Regions from separate parts of the Homo sapiens genome. Here all the other regions are reported to be linked to region 3. Evidence: microRNA targets listed by miRTarBase, many of them from high-throughput screens and not tested one by one. Region 3 holds a microRNA gene; each other region holds the end of a gene's coding sequence.
Evidence for each region. Region 3 holds the annotated microRNA hsa-miR-548h-3p (CAAAAACCGCAAUUACUUUUGCA, at 3,229-3,251, opposite strand). A microRNA usually pairs through its seed, bases 2 to 8, with sites in the 3' UTR of a target mRNA and lowers its output. Matches are read on the target gene's strand: a 7mer-m8 pairs with bases 2 to 8, a 7mer-A1 pairs with bases 2 to 7 and ends in A, and an 8mer does both.

Region 1: the mRNA of GPC5 is a reported target of hsa-miR-548h-3p. The part of its 3' UTR that is shown has no 7-base or 8-base seed match.
Region 2: the mRNA of ABCE1 is a reported target of hsa-miR-548h-3p. Seed matches in the 3' UTR shown: 7mer-A1 at 5,138-5,144.

The regions. Positions count from the first base shown.
Region 1 is chr13:92,865,087-92,872,291 of GRCh38, reverse strand. GPC5 (glypican 5) reads right to left here. Exons shown (of 8, transcript NM_004466.6): 8 at 5,055-6,010. The coding sequence ends at 5,853. Among named protein-coding and RNA genes, the nearest start is that of GPC5-AS1, 150 kb to the right of the region's middle.
Region 2 is chr4:145,126,092-145,133,296 of GRCh38, reverse strand. ABCE1 (ATP binding cassette subfamily E member 1) reads right to left here. Exons shown (of 18, transcript NM_002940.3): 18 at 3,773-5,771. The coding sequence ends at 5,724. Among named protein-coding and RNA genes, the nearest start is that of ABCE1, 31 kb to the right of the region's middle. RefSeq lists an enhancer at 6,926-7,165.
Region 3 is chr8:27,045,643-27,052,847 of GRCh38, forward strand. It overlaps MIR548H4 (microRNA 548h-4), which reads right to left and starts at 3,321; the gene lies at 3,211-3,321.

The DNA of each region.
Region 1 (7,205 bases), not on the chromosome of region 3:
GAACATTTAAAAATAGCCTATACAGCCTTCAAGTAGCCTAACCTAACCTAATTGACCTATCAAAAGTTTTCTGAACCCTGGGATACTGAGTGGTGCAGTGGAAAAAAGGATTTTGAAGGCTGATTTTAGAATGCTTGCTTTGTCTATCACTGGCAATGTGACCTTAATGAAGTGATTTTGCCTCTCAGAAATAACCACTTGGGGGTAACTTAGGTGAGATACTGAGCAACACACTTCTTGTTTACTCATATTTGTTCTTCCCACCGCGCTTGGGTTGTACTGGTAACCCACAGTATAATAATCCCACAGAGATGGAGGTCTAAATACACCAGTCAAGGAGACCTTCAAGCAAGGTTTGGAGGTCTCTAAATTTGTCATTGTAGACACCAATTCACATTTGAATACTGGGTCAGAGCTAATATCCTTTTATATTCAATGAAAGAAAGACCACTTACTCCCAATACTTAAAAAAATAAACTTTCAGTGAATAAGCCTCATAGCCAGGATGAGTCCAGGCAAAACATGAAACATGAAGCAGGCAGTATGGGTTTCTTGTGCATTCCAGAGTCCATTGCTTCTCTTCTCTTTCCCTTTCCTGAACCCTACTCATTCACTCTCCAACCATCTTCTCTACGCTCTGGATATGGTTTGGCTCCAGGTCCTCACCGAAATATCGTGTTGAATTTTAATTCCCAGTGTTAGGAAGGGACCTGGTGGGAGGTTATTTGTTCATGGGGCTGGAGTTTCCCCTTGCTGTTCTCTTGACAGTGAGTTTTCACAAGATCAGGTTGTTTGAAAGTGGGTTGCACTTCCCCATTCACTCTCTCTCTCCTGCTGCCATGTGAAGATTGTGCCTGCTTCCCTTTTGCCTTCTACCATGATTGTAAGTTTCCTGAGGCCTTCCCAGCTATGCCTACTGTACAACCTACAGAACTGTGAGTCAATTAAACCTCTTTTCTTCATAAATTATCCAGTCTCAGGTAGTTCTTTATAGTAGTATGAAAACAGACTAACACAGATCTCTTCCCCTATCAAAAACTTATTGACAGGCAGAATCCATAACTAAATATTCTAGTGTTGTCCCATCCTGGAAACATGTGCACTTTAACAGAAAGCTCTGTGGGAAGGGAACAAACACGAATCATTATGGCTCATCATGGGCCAGCAGGGTCCTAATAGGTGTTGGATTATCTAGTTCTCTAAGTAACACTGTGAGGTAGATACAGTTATCTCAATTTTTACAGATAAGAAAAGAGAAAGGAAATAGAGACAGTAGCCAGAAAATGTATGTGGGGAATGAGTATGTATATGGATGGAGCGGCAGGGTGGGGGGGTCAAGGAGAGAAGTGAGAATGTGCCCTGGGTGAGCAAATCACATTGACTTTGCAAATTGGGTCCTGGAACTCTTTGATCACAATTATGGAGTCACTCTTTCTGGAACATACTATACCGTTCACAGCATTTGTCTTACAGCTGGGCCTTCTTGTTCTTGTTCTTCGTTTTTCTTTCTTCTTGTTATGCTAGTGGTCTTGGCTGAGTAATCTCAGGAAAATCAGAGACCTCCCTTTTTTTCTAAGAGTCTTCATTCCTTCCAATCCAACATGTTTAAAGGTGGGTATCAAACTCATAAAAGTAAGAATTTACTTATTACTGCAGTCAGTCCCATTCCTTCTGTCTCCAACCAGTTTTGATCCTTAAATGTTCACCGTTCTGTTCTTAATTCTATGGTCTTTCAAATTCTGATATATTGTCTTTCACTCTGGTCTTCAATGTAGTCAAAGTAAAATTTTAAGGGGAAAATAAGATGCGTGATCTTCTCACACACATTTTCATGAAGTTGATTCCAGTGTGAGAATTGGCAAGTGCAGGAAGGCAAAAGTCTCTTAAATCAGATGTTTCCAAAAAGTAACCATGGACATCCACTCCTACTCTACTCTCTTCCAAATAAGTTATTGTTTTCTGCTATGGAAATATAAATTATATTGTGATGAAATTACTCAGTTTTCTCTGTGCAAGGAGGCAGAAAGGATAGCTTAAGAATTATATTTGATTAGATCTCTAGTCATAAAGTAATTATAACAGTAATTCAGTCACTCTGTAATTTTACTAAAGGCAAGGAAAGCAGACTTTTGACTTGAGAAATATGTTTTATCTGTATTTTAATCAAAAATGACTTGTATACAACAATCTGCATTTAAAGAAAAACTTGATATGTTCACATTCATACCTAACAACATTAGAAATTATTATTTCTGAATTTTCATAACCCATGTAATTGTATATGAATGACATTAAAGGTTGCAAACTAAATACAATAGTGATGTAGCCTGCTCAACAAAGTTCTCATTCAGAATAAGAGACGTCTAGGTTGAATATATTCATTCAAGAAAAAAATCATTTTTATTGTCCTTGAAGGATTCTGATGTTAGAAACAATATTTTATATGATAGCAAACAGTTAGTAATAAATGAATTTAGTCCTTTTCAAAGCATCATTATTGAGCACTTCAGAAAATCTGAGTGTTGGGAGGAAAGAGCTTATTAACCTCAGTCCTTTTTTAGTGAGAAGATAACCATGCAGACATTATTTTATTGTACCATGTACTGTAACCATGCAGACATTATTTATTCACAGAATAAATAGAGGATAAAGGCAAATCTAAGATTTAAAAAATAATTTTCTGCCATGCCCTTTCCCTTCCTTCCCTTCTTCCTTCCCTCCCTCCTTCCCTCCCTCCTCCCTCCTTTCCTTCCTTCCTTCCTCCTCTCCTTCCTTTCATTTTTTTATGCCATCCTATAGCCAAAGAAATGTTTTATACCTTTTTGTTGCAAAGGAAACTAAAATAAACTTCATGATCCCATTAGAGTTAAAACAGTTGTGTTTTCTTTCTCATTCTCGGCAGCTGATTTATTTTCAGGGCTGATGTGTTTAGAGTGGGTTTGAATATATGGGAGGGTAATGAATGGTACTAAAAAAAGTCCATGTTTACACTTCTCCTTTTTATTATGTTTCTACACTAATGTGCATTTTGGTAATTAGACAATTATTCTATAGCCAACTGTATTTGTTAAATCCTAGTTTGGAGACTTAAGTAGTCTCTGAATGATTTTTGTGCTAACCTGTAGTTCCTCGCTGTTGTTCCAAAACTGTATCTTTGAACCAGAAAGGTATACAGTTTATTTAAAGGTATCATACTCACCATCTAACTCTGTTATGATTAGTTGTATGACATCTGTCAAATTCCCTAATATTTATAAGCTCAGTTTTCTCATTGGTAAAATGGAAATGTCAGTGTTTTTGGGGAGATTAAATGACATTGTGCATCAAGGCATTTATCATGGTGCGTATACAAAGAAAGGCCAAGTAAATGTTAGTTCTGCTTCTAAACCTAGTCTCCCCAATATATGCAAAATATCAGACGAAGTTTTATGATTACTTAAACTCATAAAAATAACTCCGGGATTCAAGAATATGGCTCTTTTAAAAATTACACCAGCATAAAATGTGACTATGTGTGTGATATTTTTAAATACATACATTCAGTCTGATGTAATCTATTAAATAATCTTGGAAAGTAGACACATATCCAACACTTGTATCATTGCTCAAAACTTTCTTAGACCTTATTAATGAAAAACTCTCCAGAAGCAAATTCTGAGCCATATAAAAAATCAGCATTATTGTTTTTATTTGACTGAAAATCAAGCCTATCTTTGAGGGGGCGAAGAAAGTCCAAATGAGATACTCTCTCTCATTTGAAAGAGCTTTGCAATTCATAAGAAACTATGTAGATATGAAATGTCACAGAATGGGAAGTGTTAATGGATAAGTATATCCTTACTGAGAATATTAACAATTTTGCCTTAGGCTTTTAAAGAAATTCTGAAAACCCCAGTGTTTTAAGCTCTAGTAACACCATTATTGCTTATATAGTCCCCAAAGTGCCCACCTGCAGATAACACCCATCTGAGCATGTAAAACTTAGTTTAAAAAAAAATAATCATTTCTTGTATTGACTTTACCACTCTGCTTTTGTCCATTTCTTGCCATATCTGAAATTATCTTCTGTCAATTAATTTTATCCATATATCTTAGACTGCTAAAGCATGCTCTTCAGTTTGTTTGTCTTTAGAATTAAATTCCTCTTAAGTTGGGTCTGAAATTTTGCCGTAGCAAGCCAATCATGACTTGGGCTGGAGGGCAGCAAATGAGTGCCTTAGTATCACTTTTTTCCAAGACTGATTTAAATGAAGAGCTGAGGTTGAAGTAAAAAATTTTCAAAATAGGGTTAAGTTTGTAATTTGTGGAGTGTGTCAAGGTGAGTGCAAATGAGTTATTAACTGAATGGATCAGGGAATGTTAGGTGTGGAATGGAAGCCTAGGAAAATGGCATCCACAACTGATGGGTAGAATAACACTTACGGTTCTGAGGCATGTTTGAATGGAGGGTAAAACCTGATTGGGCAGCTTAAAAATGTTGTGATTTAAACTAACCATCCTTAGATCATTTTGTTAATTGAGAACTTAAGCGAGAACAAGGTTTGATCATATATTGTTTCCTGACTAGCAGAAACGGATTTTACCTTATTAATGTTTGCATTTGGCTGTGTCTTGTTTACGTCTTTGTCAGAAGTCATTTCAAATTTTTTTTTGTTTTTTTTTATTTGAGGTCAGCAATTCCCTTTTCTATTCTGTGACTTTGTATTAATTATATTTTCTCTCTGTAGACTGGATGTGATACTTATTAATAAAAACTAACTTCTCTTTTCCTCAAGTATAGCCATATACATATCCTATTAGTGTCTATTGAGGCAACTTATCCCAACTGAGAAATTAGGGACTGTTGGTTTGCAGCTCCATTAATGAGCAAATAGGAAAGAGCTAAAGTGTTGCATATCATCTTTTCTGTACATGTCTGCAGATATTCATAGGAACCTTAGAAATGCAAAGGTAGCCAATTGTACAACATCAGGCTTTAAAAAGTAGTACATAATATTTTGAAAATGGGTGAAAATAGCATTTTTGCCAGAAGAAAATGACAAATATTCTTCAAATTTTTCCACCAAATAGTTAACAGCTTTATTGGAGATATTCCTAGAGCAAGCATGTGCTTCCCAACATAGCTAAATCTATGAGGCAAAGAGAGAGATGGGAGCAGAGGCACAATACCAAAGATGCATTTTGAATATAATGGAATACAAATCAGGTGTTAATAAAATACTCAGCTTTAAGGTTCATCAGTGGCTAAGTTACAGTGGGTCAAAATTATCAAGGTTCTTCAGTGAAATTATATGAAATGCTTCTCAAGAATCTACCCCATAACTTATAGACATTCAGACATTTCCTTCTACAGCTTGCAAAAATGGAAGAGTCTCTTGAATATGCATGCATACTACTTGCCATTGTATGTTTTGATTTATTTCATGATATTCTAATTTCAATACTTTAAGAAATACTGCATACTGTTTTCATTGTCTGGCAAATACACTTTCAAATGAAAACATTTTTAATTTAGAAAGGAAGGGGCTTGGAATTGATAATAAAATTACAGATACACTAAATTCTTCTTATTCAAAGTCACTTCTGTGCCCTTCACATCTTCAGATTTAATATATTAGAAGTTAAGAAGGTTTTCAGTTAGATTGAAAAAAGACATATTTTTAAAGTGTGTCATTTAAACGTTGAGTTTTAGGGACTTTATGAATATTTCAGCTTGGCTTCTGAGAAGTTAGTGTAACATATCTTTTCATAAATATAATTGTTACATTGAAAAAGGATCTCTTATTCCAGGCATATGCAGAGAGAGAAGAAATCGAGACTTCAGTAAGGTATGTCAGGACAGAAGAGTTCAGTTACCAAATCCCGGGAAGTAACATCACCACACTTATCAGAGTGAATGTCATAGATTCAGTCGCCACTGCACATCCTGCTCCTGTTGTGTCTAAAGTACTGCCAGTGTCTGTTTGATGGATTTGCTTTACATCACTGAAGTTCATATCATCTGGCATCCCTGTAGAGGCAAATAAGAAAGCACAGGTGATGCATGACCACTTCACCATAATACGTCTAGAACAACTCTTAAACTCAAAGTGTGGACAGCATTGTTTTTGGGGACCATTCTCTATGTTCACCTAACTCTAACATAATTAATATGACACAGGTATTTCTGTCCTACTTAGATTGGAGAGTTCAAGCTCTTGTGTGAAAATTCTCAAATATTATAAGAGCAAAGTGAAAAGATTTTTAGCTTTTTAAAATTTTTGGAACATTTCTCTGCCACTGGTAAGTAAGTGAAGACATTTAATTAATTAATATATCCTAGGTATGGGATTAGTTCTTGTTTCAGAGATTTATCACCTTCAGTAACTGAAAACTTTTCCCATGAAAATAAAACCAGTTGAGGGGATATAATTGAATAAAATATTTTTTAAAAGTAGAATTTCTACAGATCATATTTTACATTAGAATAAAGTAGGCCTAAGATCTTTTTCAAATTTATTTTCATTTTTACTTGACAAATTTTATAGATATTGATGGGGTACAATGTGATATTTTGACAAGTATACCAGGAGGAATGATAAAGTCAAGCTGGCTAGCATATCCATCACCTCACATCCTTAGCATTTTTCTTGTGGAGGGAACATTTGAAATGTACCTTCTTGGCAATTTGGAAATATACAGTACATTATGAATGATAGTTACCATGCTGCGCAATGGTCTAAAACATTTCTTCCTCCTGTCTAACTAAACTTTGTACCCTCCAACCACCATCTCCCCTCCCTTCCCCACATCCATCCCCTGGCAGCCACCCTTTTACTTTCCCCTTTTATGACTTCAGCTATTTTAGATTCCACATGTAAGTGAGATCAGGAATTAGGACCTTTATGGAAATAGCAAATAGCAAAGAATAATAGCAACAAATGTTAAATTATATCTTCCATACACACATACAGCTGTGAGGATGGAGGTGTAGATATCTATCAACAGATCAAAGAAGTTGTTAATGGGTGGACTGGAGAATGAAGTTAGGGATAAAGTGTTTCATTTAAAAAAAAGCGGGCAAAGTCATACACCAAGATCCAGTCGCATTCTGGTTATTACTTCCGTACGTTATGAAACCTGACAAGTTGAGGAAAAAACTATCCCCTTAATTAACTGGGTTGAAAGAATTGCTTTTTAAAGATGTTTACCTTAGTACGATATAC
Region 2 (7,205 bases), not on the chromosome of region 3:
AATTGTTTTTTAATGGTTTTTACATTTAGCATTCAGTGATATTTATGTTGGCTAAAGGTGAAAGCAAATTGAGTGTTTTGAAAACAAAGTATACTTACTTTATACTCTGAAAACTCAATTTCTTAAAGCCTGTTTTTCTTTATAAAAGTTACCAAAGAATATTATCAAGTCAATACTTGTTTACATACAATATGAACTTTCTGTTAGCCTGGCTTCCTCAGGAGGCCGAACCTGAAACAAGAGCCTCTTTCAGTTCAAGTATTTGACAGAAAAGTGAGTGATCTAGGAACAGGGTCAGCAGGCTGGGAAGGAGGATGAGCTGTTATAAAGGTAACGAGAGTTGGCATGTGGAACTTTTGAGACTGCTTTAGGAGCTGAGTAAAATATAGAACCTTGTGGGAAAGGGAGAAAGGAAGGAGAAAGGAAACATTAGGTTCTTGGCAGTATGCCCGTGGGTTTATCCATGGAGTCAATAAGAGAAGCCAGTGTTGGGGCTGGTTAGTAAGAGGTGTGTTTGTGGCTGGATGGGGGGCTCTTGCAGAATTGGTCACTCCAGAAGTGCATGGCAGTGACCCAAATTAAGTCAGCGGTCTCCAAAAAGTGTCTGATACAAAGGGCCTGCTTTTCACTTTGAATAATTAAACTTTCCCTTTTCATTCAAAGACTTAGGTCTGGGTCTAGGGCATAGTATGAGAATGTAAGTAACTATGAAAGAGGAAGTTAAACACAGCTTCCCTTCATAAACTTTTGCACCCTAACTTAATCTGTGAGTTCTTCATGAAACGTGGACCCCTCAGAATAGTTTAATAGGGTTTTCTAAGAAAAGCTACAGACAGACATAGGTATAAACATCAGTTTTTGAAACTGGTTTTTCTATAATGAATTCATTAGAGAAACTGGGGCTTTAGAGGCAATCCTTTAAAAATACATAACATTCCTGTAATTATATTTTATTTTTCACATTTAGTAAAAAGCATTACAAAGATTAAAGATGTTAATGGTAGGCCAGGCGTGGTGGCTCACACCTGTAATCCCAGCACTTTCGGAGGCTGAGGCGGGTGGATCACGAGGTCAGGAGCTCGAGACCAGCCTAACCAACATGGTGAAACTCTGTCTCTACCAAAAATACGAAAATTAGCCGGGCATGGTGGCACGCACCTGTAATCCCAGCTGAGGCAGGAGAGGCTGAGGCAGGAGAATCACTTGAACCTGGGAGGCGGAGGTTGCAGTGAGCCAAAATCGTGCCGCTGCACTCCAGCCTAGGCAACAGTGAGGCTCCGTCTCAAAAAAAAAAAAAGATGTAAATGTAGATGAGTGTGGTTCTTAAGGCCTCCTATCCCTATGAATATTCTTAACTGAACTGGCAGGTTAACCGATTGATAACAAAATTCTGTGTAGTAAGCCAATTTCTTTTTAAAAAAAATGAGAACCTTGACTTTGGACTAACGACCTCCAGATCAAATAGAAAACAAACTACTGCAATTTACCTATCTAGGGATATATTTGTTACTTGTTGCATCCTTCCAAACTAGTAGTAAAAGCATTTAAGTCCTGTATAGTTTTATAAGATACTTTTATAAATGGAGACAAGAAACCAGAAGCACAGATATAAAGTGACCATTGACATGGGAGACCTATACTTAGGCACATGCAAGGTTGGGAGCTGGAACTAACATTTTCATTAAAGCCAGAGTCACCCCAGCGAAAAGGAGTGAAATTAAAAATTCCCAGACAAAACTGTCTTGGCCTGGGATCCAGTTTCTTAAAGGCAAAAAACAAAACAACCACTGAAAATGTTACCACATTCATTTAGGTTTGAGGTCCAGAAACTCACAAACTAGGAAAACTGAAAAGTGGTTCCAGGGTGGTAACACACTTGGCTCCCCTGGCAGAAGGCAAATGGAGAGCCTCTCAAGGAAAAGACCTTTCTTGATGGCAAACAGGAAACCAGTTTGACTTAACCAGGTTTAAACAAATAGGGATTTATTTCTCAAGAAATGTGGAGAGAAGTGGCTGCTGGCAGTTGTGCAGCATTTTAATGTCAGGAGTAACATTCTTGTAGCTTGTTTTGCATTTCCCTTATATGTGTCACCTTCTGGGCATGAAATGCTTGCTCCATATATTACACCCTCAAGAAGCAGTACCAGATGATAATCTCCCTTTATTAGGAAAACGAGGTTTTCTTGAGGTATTTTCTAGAAAAACCTCAAGAGGTTTCAATTTACTGGCTAGAACTCTCTTGCAGTTAGGTCATATGGCTTAACTGCAAGAGACTAGGAAAGTATGGAAGAGGATTTTCTATGTCTTAGACCAATTATGACCAACCACGTGGGACTGGGCATTGGCAGAGGAGGTGGTAGTGGTGGTGAGTACAGGGCTGAGGATAAATGATATTTGCCACACAAAATCTCAGAATTTTCAGATACAGCCTCACTGAACATCTGCTCACAAACTGAAACACTACAAAGGAAACAATCTTCCAAGAGCAACAGTCAGCACAGTATACAGCCAAGTTTAGACCTGCATGTATTAAGTGGACAGAGTAGAAATGCTTAAAAAAATTAAGACAAAGCGGTGAAAAATTAAAGTAGAAGCTCCGGAACAACTACTGTCTGGATATTTCCGCTTCTCTAACTGGCCTTGCTTTGTCTCTTCAAGTCCTACTACTTTCAGCATGTAAAAAACTAACTTCAATCTGGAAGGCACAGAAAGCTCATCACAATCTGCCCATATCCATCATTTCCTTCCATTAATCTCTTAAATGCCCATGTTCCTTTCTGCCTCTCACCAGACATGTATTTTGCTTTAGGTAGATTATCTCACTTATCCTTTTAACAACTCAGTAAGATGGGTGCTGTTACTCTTTCCTGGGACCTAATTCCTTTATGTAGTCCTTTCTGACATTCCAACTCAGAATGATTACTTTCTCTTCTGAACCACTCACTGAGTGCTCACAGCAGACTAGGCACTGGGGTTAAGGACTTGACATACCTGTATCCAAGTATATTGATGAACATGAAGGAAATTATACAACACAGCAGTTTTGTAGTCTTCCTACTTTCTCTGTGGCATGCAGGTTCATTCCTTCAATACAGTAGGCCACTACATGCCAGACACCATGCTATATATACTGAGTGTTAAGACAGATACAAGACTGGACTTCAGAATGCTTGTAGTCTAAAATTAGGTTAACCTAAATTGCAAAAAACAGTTGTAGCATCAATACACTGCCTTTAAGACTACACTAAGTGAACACAGAAAATATGGATTATCCAGTATTATCTCAAATGTGGAGAGAAGTGGCTACAGATGCCACTATTATTATCCAATGACGATTTAAAAACTTCAATGGCTGGGCGCGGTGGCTCATGCCTGTAATCCCAGCACTTTGGGAGGCCAAGGCGGGTGGATTACCTGAGGTCCAGTTGAGACCAGCCTGGCCTACATGGTGAAACTCCGTCTCTACTAAAAATACAAAAATAGCTGGGTGTGGTGGTGGGTGCCTGTAATCCCAGCTACTCAGGAGGCTGAGGCAGAATTGCTTGAACCCAGGAGGCGGGTTGCAGTGAGTGAATATCACATCATTGCACTCCAGCCTGGGTGACAGAGCGAGACTCCATCTCAAAACAAACAAACAAAAAAAAACCCCCAAAATTTCAATGATTTATAATCACATGCAAAGTGTAAAATTCAAAGGGTATTATATATGTGTATATATAAATGTCTCCTTTTCCCGTCTATTCTTTGATCAAATTGTCCTTGTCAAAAGCAATCTGTTTCTTGAGTATTCCTTTATTTCAATATTTTGTATATTTTCACAAAAATGGTAGTATAATAAACTGTTCCAGTTTTTTGTTTTTTTAAGTATTTGAGACTTTTTCCAATTAGGACATATGAAGTAGTCTCATTCTTTTGCTAACATCTGCATTGATTTTATACTGATTTTATAAGTATTTTTCTTGTGTTAGCAATTGTAGGCCTTTCTGTTGCTATGTAAAATTTTAAGATACATATTTTAAAGATTTCATTTACATGAAAATACGTTTAATACATATTCTGTCATTAGCAGTAAGTAGAACTGTGCTCTTATATCACAAGTACTTTCTTTAAGACAATCCAGGATCAGTAAATAACAATAGCTTTTGCTTATTTTATTCAATATATTTGAAATGATCATTCACAAATTTAACCTATCCTTAAAAATAGGCATTACTTATTTTAGTATAATCCCATTTGTATACAAAACAAACCCTTTACATATTCACACTTAGGTAAGTGCACAGAAAAAAGCATGAAAGAATATACATTATTAAATTCAAACGCTGGTAACCTTTGGGAGGGTAATAAAGGGAGATCATTTTTTTATTCCATTCTGTATATTTGAATTTTTTACAACATGTATTTATGGGTTACTGAAATTATTTTTAAAAGGCATAATAGGGTCCAGTTAAACCATACTTTCTAGCCATTATTTGCATATTAATCAAGACTTCTGTTATTTCAAGTAGCTCTTAAAGTTTGTCAAACAGTTTCTAATTTCCTCCTCAATTTTGCTTGCCCCAGTCATTTATTTAGTAAACACTCTTCCTCACTCATAATTCCAGTTTAGTCAGAAGTACAACTTAAAGTGGCTCCAGGCTCCAGGTAATCCTGTTCAAAATTCAGGAACTCAAGAAATTTAGATGGGTTTTTGGAACTACAAAATGGTTTAGATAATGTGCTCTATATCCAAACTCACAAATGAATATATGTGGTACCAGGGGATACTTTGTATTGCCATCTGGGGACTTTTGCATTAATGTTGCCTTTAGGGAAGTGGTTTATAATCCTTGGCTGCCCAACAGAAAAATCTGTGGAACTTAAAAAAAATACATAGATGCTTAGGCACCATCTTTAAAGATTTCGAGTCTGTAGTTCTAAGGGAAGCAAATATTCTTTAGAAATGCTTTTTCCTAAATCTCAATCAGTGATTATATAAATATATGTGTACAAAAATGACATTACCTAGAGAATGACTGAATACAGAACCTCATGGAATGCAAAAACAAAAAAAGTTCAGAGTAAAGTTAGGGGTTTTTTGCGGGGAATGGAACTGAATTGGTTTTTGCTAAACATGTTTAAAAGCACCAAAAAAGATTAAAAACAATTTAAAAATACCTATTTTTCCAACAGTGGTGTTTTGCAGTAGATAATCTTCCTCGGAAACCATATACTGGTAATATAGTGCAAAGACTGAAAACAAACAATAAACATAATCCTGATGTTTATTTATCAAATGTCAATCAGTGGAATCTTTGACTGGCTTTTAAAATAAGGGCAGTTTCATTACACTGGCATACTTGGCAAACCAGGTAAGTACAGAAACCCTTTTCAAGATTTAAAAAATGGAGCAACACTGGTCAGCATTTGGTACCGTGAATATAATACACCTACTGAAAATCTTCCCATACATCATGAAAACTTGGAAGTAATTTGTATAGCTTGAAATGTCTTCATTTTAGAATATTATGCACAAAAGAGCCTCTTCAGGAACAGAAAAGTGGCATTTTCTGTGTTTCAACTACAATTTAGAACCCAACTGGCTTTTTATGTTATATTAAGTATATTATACTTCAAGTTCCAGAGTATGTGGGGCATAAAATCCTGATTCAAGTTTTATATGACAAAAAATTCTAGTAAATACTCCTTTTAATAAATGGCTTATCAATATTCTCAGAGTCAGTCTAATCATCCAAGAAAAAGTAGTTTCCACTCTTCTTTTGTTCTACATCCTAAAAAAGAAAACAGAAGCCACAAAAATCAGCAACACGATTCTACTATAGGTAAAAGTAGACTTTCACTCATGGTATTACTTAGCTGTGCTTAAAACAGTGCCTGTACAACCTGTTCTGCACATACCATCTGTTTCTGGATATTCCTGGGTCCACTGCTCAAAGGAAAGATAACTACCTCTGCCCCATCCCTAATGCTAGAATGACTCACTTGCACCAACTCAAGTAAAGTCCCTTTATATAAGATGCCTCACATATATAAAATTTTGCTATGTGTTATTATTTCTAGGAAAACTATTAAATTCCATTTTCATCAATGCAACTTTTATCTCCAGATTCAAAATGCAGCATACTGTCAGTTTGAGATCTGCCTACTACACAAAATATATATATATAAAGTTTTTTCCAATACTGGCCAGTAACAATCTCACCTACCTACTTGTTGAGCTGTTCTCTTATTAGGATTAAGGTATGACAATCTTAAGATGAGTAGGCATACAGAAATGATAACTCATGGTGACTGAACCATAAGTCTGTCTAAGAAAATGACAATACAAAGTGTCCTTAATGCTTCCAAAGAAATTCTTCTTTTCTACCCAATATGCTTTTCAAAACTGAGAAAACTCTTCAATTTTATGTGAGAACTTAACCATTTCTCTATCCTGGCCAAGAAGTAATATCAATCAGAAAAAAGGCATCCAGACATACTGTTAGGTGCTTAAGAATACAATGACGTGCAAGATAACTTTGCCTCTGGCATTCCAAGAGCTCATGGTTTAGCAGCAAAGCTAGGACTACAAATATGAAAATAAATGCTACAGCAGAAGTATGTATAACATACTTCTAAAGCTTTTAAGCATTAAGGATGATGGATACAGAGTGATAAAATGTAAACACTTTGAGGCACTGCAGATATTAAAAACAGAAATGATGGCCAGCATGGTGGCTCACGCCTGTAATCCCAGCACTTTGGGAGGCCAAGGCAGGTGGAACACTAGGTCAGGAGTTCAAGACTAGCACGGGCAAGATGGTGAAACCCCATCTCTATCAAAAAAATACAGAAAATTAGTCGGGTGTGGTGGTGGGCACCTGTAATCCCAGCTACTCGGGAGGCTGAGGCAGAGAATTGCTTGAACTCGGGAGGCAGAGGTTGTAGTGAGCCGAGATCACGCCACTGCACTCCAGCCTAGGTGAGAGAGTGAGACTCTGCCTCAAAAAAACAAACAACTAAAACCAAAACCAAAAAAACAACCCAGAAATGCTTTTAGAGTTCATTTACTTTCTGTTTCTGAGTGACTAAGATTTTTGCCTTTTAAGAAACAAATACTGTATTTCACAGAGGAAATCAACTGTAGGGTGCACAACTGTGAACTACAAAGACAAAAAACATTGTCAATTAAGTAGACACAATGTTTTCCTCATCACAGGAGCTTG
Region 3 (7,205 bases):
TAGCTTGAAATCAGCCACCGTAGGAGAATTACACAATGGAAATGGACAAATGGTACAAATCAAGGCATACCTTAATTTTTGTTGATTGCCTAGACTTAAGGAAGAGGTGGAGAAAATGTTAATAATTCAGATTAAATGTAGAAGAGTTTCATGCTACATTTGAACAGCACAAAAAATTGAGGAAATATTCTTCCAGTATTTGAAAACTGTTATCCAGTTTGGCAAAGAACATCCTCTTGTTGTCGACACATGGGGAAATTCCAACACACTCCTTTATTCTCTTACTCTTGTCTTACTTGTTAACATGTATGAAAATATCAACCAACATTCATGCCAGGATGGCATATGGGGAGCCAGGTGTTACCCATTTATTATCACACAGATGTGTCAGAAACATAGCTGGGAATCAGATTAGACAGGCCTTATATATCAAAGTAAGGGTGTAAAAATTTTTAATTGTGAAATGGAAAGCTGTGAGGTTTAAAACAGAAGAATAAGATGCTCTGAATTCTGTTTCGGCCTGGTGCAGTGGCTCACGCCTGTAATCCCAGCACTTTGGGAGGCTGAGGTGGGCTGATCACGAGGTCAGGAGATCGAGACCATCCTGGCTAACACAGTGAAACCCCGTCTCTACTAAAAATACAAAAAATTAGCCTGGCATGGTGGCAGGTGCCTGTAGTCCCAGCTACTCGTGAGGCTGAGGCAGGAGAATGGCGTGAACCTGGGAGGTGGAGCTTGCAGTGAGCCAAGATTGCACCACTGCACTCCAGACTGGGCGACAGAGCGAGACTCTGTCTCAAAAAAAAAGGATCATTTCAGTAGCTGGGAACAGAATAGAGCATAGGTGAACAAAAACAGAAAAAGTGGGGCTGAGTTAGGAGAACATACGTCAGCTTCCTCTGGGTAGCTGTGGAGGTGATGAGAAGCAGTTCAACTTGAGCTGTATTTTTCAAGGAAATGTCAACAGGACTTGCTGAGGACTTAGATGTGGGTTAGAAAATAAGAAAGATAGCACAGATGACTCCAAAGTTTTTGGCCTGAGCAGCTGGAAGAATGGTGTAACTGTTCAATAATAGGAAGCCAAGTGAAGCAGAAATAGATTGGGGAAAGGATTGGAATAGAATAAAGAATTCTAGGGCAGCACAATGGCTCATGCCTGTAATCCCAGCACTTTGGGAGATTGAGGAGGGCAGATGGCTTGAGGAGTCCGAGACTAGCCTGCTCAACATGGCAAGACTCCATCTCTACTAAAAATACAATAGTTAGCCGGGCATGGTGGTGCACACCTGTAATCCCAGCTGCTGAAGTGGCTGAGGCAAGAGAATCGCGTGAGCCCGGGAAGTGGACGCTGCAGTGACCCGAGATTGCGCCACTGCACTCCAGCCTAGATGACAGAGTAAGACCCTGTATCAAAAAAAAAGAAGAAAAAAAAAAGGAGTTCTGTTTTTGATATGTTAAGTTTGAGATGTCTATTGTGTCCAAGTGGAGATGTTCAGGGTGAAATTGTATGGATTGTGTTTTTCATAGCATAGGGATTCTAGAGGACTTAATAGTAAAAGAAGCAGTAGGAAGATCTCAGAGGAGAGGATGAGACTAGAAGGATTCAGTTGGTCAGTGCAACTTATGTCTCACGTTGTGTCTGAGGATGACAAGAGGTGATGCATTGTGGGTAAAGCTGACTATATGGTTATTAAAAGAAAAAAAAAAGTCCAAGAAGTCCTAGTAAATGGAAAAATTTAGGTCTCCCTGGATGAAGTCAGCCATAGCCTGGGTTGATTGTTCTGCTGAAGAGAGCTTAGTCAGGTGGAGAGTGTGGTAAAGGGATAGCCATTACCCCCAAGGCTTCAATACAAGTGGAAAATGCAACAGCTTTAATCCTAAGATTCTTCCTAGATTCACAATATGTGTGTGCCCTGGTCCCAACCCCTCCCTACTCCCCTCATTTGCCCCCAGGCTTCGTGAAAGTGATAGCAGAATCAGCCATGCTGATTCCTCAGCCCAGTGCACTGGATGGAAGTTAATGCCCAAAACTGATTTATCTTCCTTGAGGCTGGGAAAAGGGATGAGTTGGGAAAGCGAACAACTAGAGGTGTTTATGAAGGAGGAACATCTGGGATGCCCGTGGTGGTAACGTGGAGTGCTGCAAAGAGGACTATAGAGAAGGAAGGCAAAATGCTGTTTAGAATCCACAAACGTGGAATCAGTGCATCTCATTTGCTGGCTCTTACCATAAAATGAGCATCAGTATCCCTGCCCTGAGCTTGGGTAGCTTATCAGAGAAGATCGCTGACACTTTTGGAGCCCATCTGAATAGCTCCCTCTGAAGCCATCCAACTTGACCATGATCTGGACTTCCTACTAGACCAGTATTTTGCCTTTGCCTGATCTTTCAACTTCAGCTTCTGCATTTTCTTCTAATTAGCCCTTTCTTACCCCACCAGCACTGCCAAAATGGAGACTTCCTGTCCCAGTCTCAGACCTTGTGGAATTCACACCTCCCCTTTCCATCACCACCTCCCAACCCTGCCACAATATGGACTACCTGTTGTTACGTTGAGAAGATTAAGACTACACAGGCAGTTAGTTTAGGGAACACCTTCTACAGTTGGTGAAATCTATTTTTAAGATCATGAAATGTCATACTACTGCCATATATACTAATTTCCTCCTCCTCCTTTCTCTAAAACTGTCACTCAAGATAAAAGTCAGCTGGGCCGGGCAGGGTGGCTTACGCCTATAACCCCAGGATCTGGGGAGGCCAAGGCTGGCGGATCACCTGAGGTCAGGAGTTTGAGACCAGCCTGGCCAACATGGCAAAACCCCATCTCTACTAAAAATACAAAAATTAGTCAGGCATGGTGGTGCACACCTGTAGTCCCAGCTACTCGAGAGGCTGAGGCTGGAGAATCGCTTGAACCTGGGAGGTGGAGGTTGCAGTGAGCCAAGATCACGCCATTGCACTGTAGCCTGGGCGACAAGAGTGAAACTCCATCTCAAAAAAAAAAAAGGGCAACTGGTGAATGCTGGGAATATGAATATCAGGGCTTGTGCTTGTTATTTTGGGGAATGACAGAAGACAGACCCAGGCAGTGTTTTTTCCCTGCATTCATCCTTTTTTCCTTTTTCTTTATTTCCCATTTATTTTATTTAAGTGTGATTTAGTTTGTACAACATTTATAAGAGGAATGGAAAATAGACAAGAAGTGATGATAGCAAGTATTAGGTTGGTGCAAAAGTAATTGCGGTTTTTGTCATTAATGAAACGTAAAGTAATTAAAGTAATGACAAAAACCGCGATTACTTTTGCACCAACCTAATAGCTTTGGAAATGGAACAACGAAGGATCACAAGTTTGGCTTCAAGTTTTCTGTGGTACACTTGCCACAAAAAGCAGGGGGCAGAGGAAACTTTTGGAGGCGATGGATATGTTTATCATTTTGATTGTGATGATATCATGGGTGTATATGTATACCCAAGCTCATCAAATTGTACACATGAAATACATGTGGGGTTTTTCTGTCTATCAATTTATACTTTGATAAAGCTATTAAAAAGAAAAAGGCAGAAATGAGCTCAAATTTTAAACTGTCTTTATTCTTTCATTGAACAAGCATTTATGAAGGGCCCGCCATGTGCCAGCTCTGTGCGAGATATTGATGTGACTCTGGGAAGGCAAGCATTGTCCCCAACCCTGCACATCTATCAGGGAAAGCAGAAGCAATTGCCATCACGTGCTAGGACAGGGAAGTTTGGCACCATGGAAACGTGTAGCAGGGGCAATCCTGGTGTGGGGGTGGGTCAGGATTGTAATTCCCAAATTGGAGACTGACTCACACAGCTATCAGTGACAGGCAGAACAACCTCCACAGACTTCAGCCAGAGGGGGGAATTAGCCATTTTCTTTTATATCACCGTTTTATTCACACATCAGCATCCCCTCATTCCCATCCACTTATTCCTGAAAGCAGGCCCTTTTTGAGGCTCCAAACATAGTAATTAAACAAAGGGGATTCTAGAAGGTGGACAAAGCATTAGAGACAGCTTCATTGTATATAAATGCCAAATTTTCTGCATCAGTAAGGTTGCAGCTGTGACAAGAATTAGGCTGCTTTCTAGGTCATATATTTTCTAAAGCACTAGGCAAAAAAAATATTAACACATGAGGGGAAAAGAAATAAATAGACTCAATTGTTTTAAAACCTTATGAGTAGACCATTTTTTAATAATACAATGAATACTGCTTATTGAATAAACAAAGAAATTATTTGTTAATATAAAATAGAGCCACATTCTCTGGTTAAATCGTGAATGTGTAAAAAATTAAGTTCTCAATTTAATCTGTTCTGCACAAGATTCTGAATGAAAGATTAATTGGATATAATGACACTGATATTATTTTCTGTATAATAATAATTCTATACATGTTTGGCAATTTATAGTTGTAATTCTATGAATCTGAATTTTTAAAAGTTAACTACAAATAAACAGTCTCTGTAAATGAGATATATGGGGTAGGAGACTGCTTACATGGGTATGGCTAAAGCATAAATTTGAAATAATATCTGATTCATATCAGAATTTATCAGCCTGGGCTGGATAATGTTTAGTCACAGATGAGACACAGATAAGAAAATTAACACCAGATTGGTAATTAAAAGTGCTTCCTGGGTATGAATGACACCTCTGAATGCAGCATGAAATAATTCCTTTTGTATTCTGCTCCACGTTTTCTTTCATCTTGTGTTTGGACATTAGCCACAGAGGGATTGATGTTTACCGCAAAGAGCCTGGAGTCAGAAGATCTATATTCTGGTCTCAATGCTGCTAGAAGTTAACTGTTAGATTTTTAGAAAAAATAAGTTCTAATCCTCTGTTCAGCTTGCACATCTGCAAAATGAAGATACTTTTTAAAGCAAAATTGAGAAAGAAATAGAACAAAATTATGCATGCAAAAATGCGGTGAAAATTTTTAGTTAATGCAAATATAAAATATCCAAATAGTCTATGCACAAATATATTTATATATCATAACAATGGAAACTAAATTATAATTGAAGGGATATCAAAAATAGAATTATAGTATTGAAACAAATAAAAGCCAACAAGATTGAATATGTGTGTTTGTGCACGTATGTTTTAAGTGGTGAGATACTTCTAGATATTATGTTGTTAACATATTACCAAATTGTTTAACTCATATATGCGTATAGTTTTTGGTAATATGAAACTGTGCATAGAAGGAGATGATCAGTAATTTATTTGGCTGTCTAGTACATGTTGAGTCACTTCTCCATATAAAAAATTAATAAAGAAGGCTAATAAATGGGCTCCTCACGTGAGGGCTAAAGACAAAGACAGATGCAGACGCTTTGTTCCTGAAACCTCTAGCTTGGAATATGTTATAGTCCTGAGACAAAGCCATTCACAATTAATTCCAATGGTAAATCTCAGTTGAGCCTCGGGGGTGTGAAGGGGGACTGATACAGCATAGTCGGTTTGCCATAAATATGCCTAAATCTATAAAAGATTCATCACATTAAAAGAGGTTTTTTCTGAACACTATGCTCATTTATCAGATTATTTGGAGATTATTTAGTATGATAAAATACAGAAAATACCTCACTACATTTGTAAAATCTTTTCAGAAATCAATTTCTAAGTTTTTAACAAAAATGTCATGATAAGACTTCTAGTACTATAAGATGTCATAGACCTTCTGGTATAGGCACAGCAGTCTGAACAAACACCGAAATAAGAGGGGCACCTTAAAATCTCTAGTCAAACGGACTGGTAGAAACCTTCTATGCAATCTCAGTCTACTAAGAAGTAGGTTTCTACCTAATGTAAAAAAACCAATACTGAAAATCAAGGAAAAGAAAGAAATAGGAACAAAACAAACAAACAATAAGACAAACAAACAAAACAAACAGTAACAAGATAAATCTCCAAAAACATACTTGAATGAAGTGGAGTTTTGTGATTTACCTGACAGAAAATTCTAAATAATGGCCATAAGGTTACTCATAGATGTCAAGACAGCAATCCAAGAACAAGCTGAGAACTTCAACAAAGATACAGTATAAAAAAGTATCACATGGAAATCATAGATCTGAAGAATGCTATAACTGAATTAAAAAATTCAATAGCGGGGTTCAATAACAAACTAGAACAATCAGGGGGAAAAATTGTGAACCTGAAGACAGATCACTGGAAATCATTCAGTCTGAGAAGCAAAAACAAAAAAGAATAAAAAGAGGTAATTATAGATGAAGAGACCAATGGGACACCATTAAGCAGAACAAATTATGCATTATTGGTGTGCCACAGGGAAAAGAAACAGAGAAAGGGATATAAAACATAATCAAGGAAATGACGGCAGAACACTTCCGAAGTCTCAGGAAGACATTAGAAAGCCAGATCCCGGAAACCCATAAGACATAAAAGATGACAAATCCAAAGAGACACCATGATACATCATAGTTAAATTGTCAAAAATTAAAGATTAAATGAAAGAAATCAAGGAGCTAAATGGAAAAACATACCGAGTTTAAGACTCAACATAGTAAAGATGTCAGTTCTGGCCAAATTCTCTATATGCTTAATGCAATTTCTATCAAAATCCCAGCAAAGTTTTCGTTGCGAAAGACAAGCTTACTCTAGAATTTATATGAAAAGTTTGAGACCCTACGATAGCTAAAGTAATCTTGACAAACAAGAATAAAATATAGGAATTACTCTGCTGATTATTAACATGTAACTGTATGGCTAGAGTAATCGAGACAATCAAGACACCATAGTATTGGCAAAGGGGCAGACACATAGATCAGTGGAAAAGAAAAAAAAAATCCAGGATCCAGACTCATACAGATATGCTCACCTAATTTTTGACATAGATCCAAAGCAGTTCAATGGAGAAAGGATAGCTTTTTCAACAAATGGCATTGGAACAACTGACCATCCAAAGGCAAACAACATGAACTTCAACCTAAACGTCACACATCGTACAAATATTCACTCAAAATGGATCAGGGACAAAATGTAAAATGTACAGTTTTAAAGCTCTTGGGAAAAAGTAGAAGACAGGACCTACAATTACCCAAAAAGCCTTCGACTTGACAAAAAAAGCACGATCCATAAGAGAAAAAGTTGACAAATTTTACTTAATCAAAATTTAACTTGCTGTGCAAAAGCTCAGTGAAGAGGAC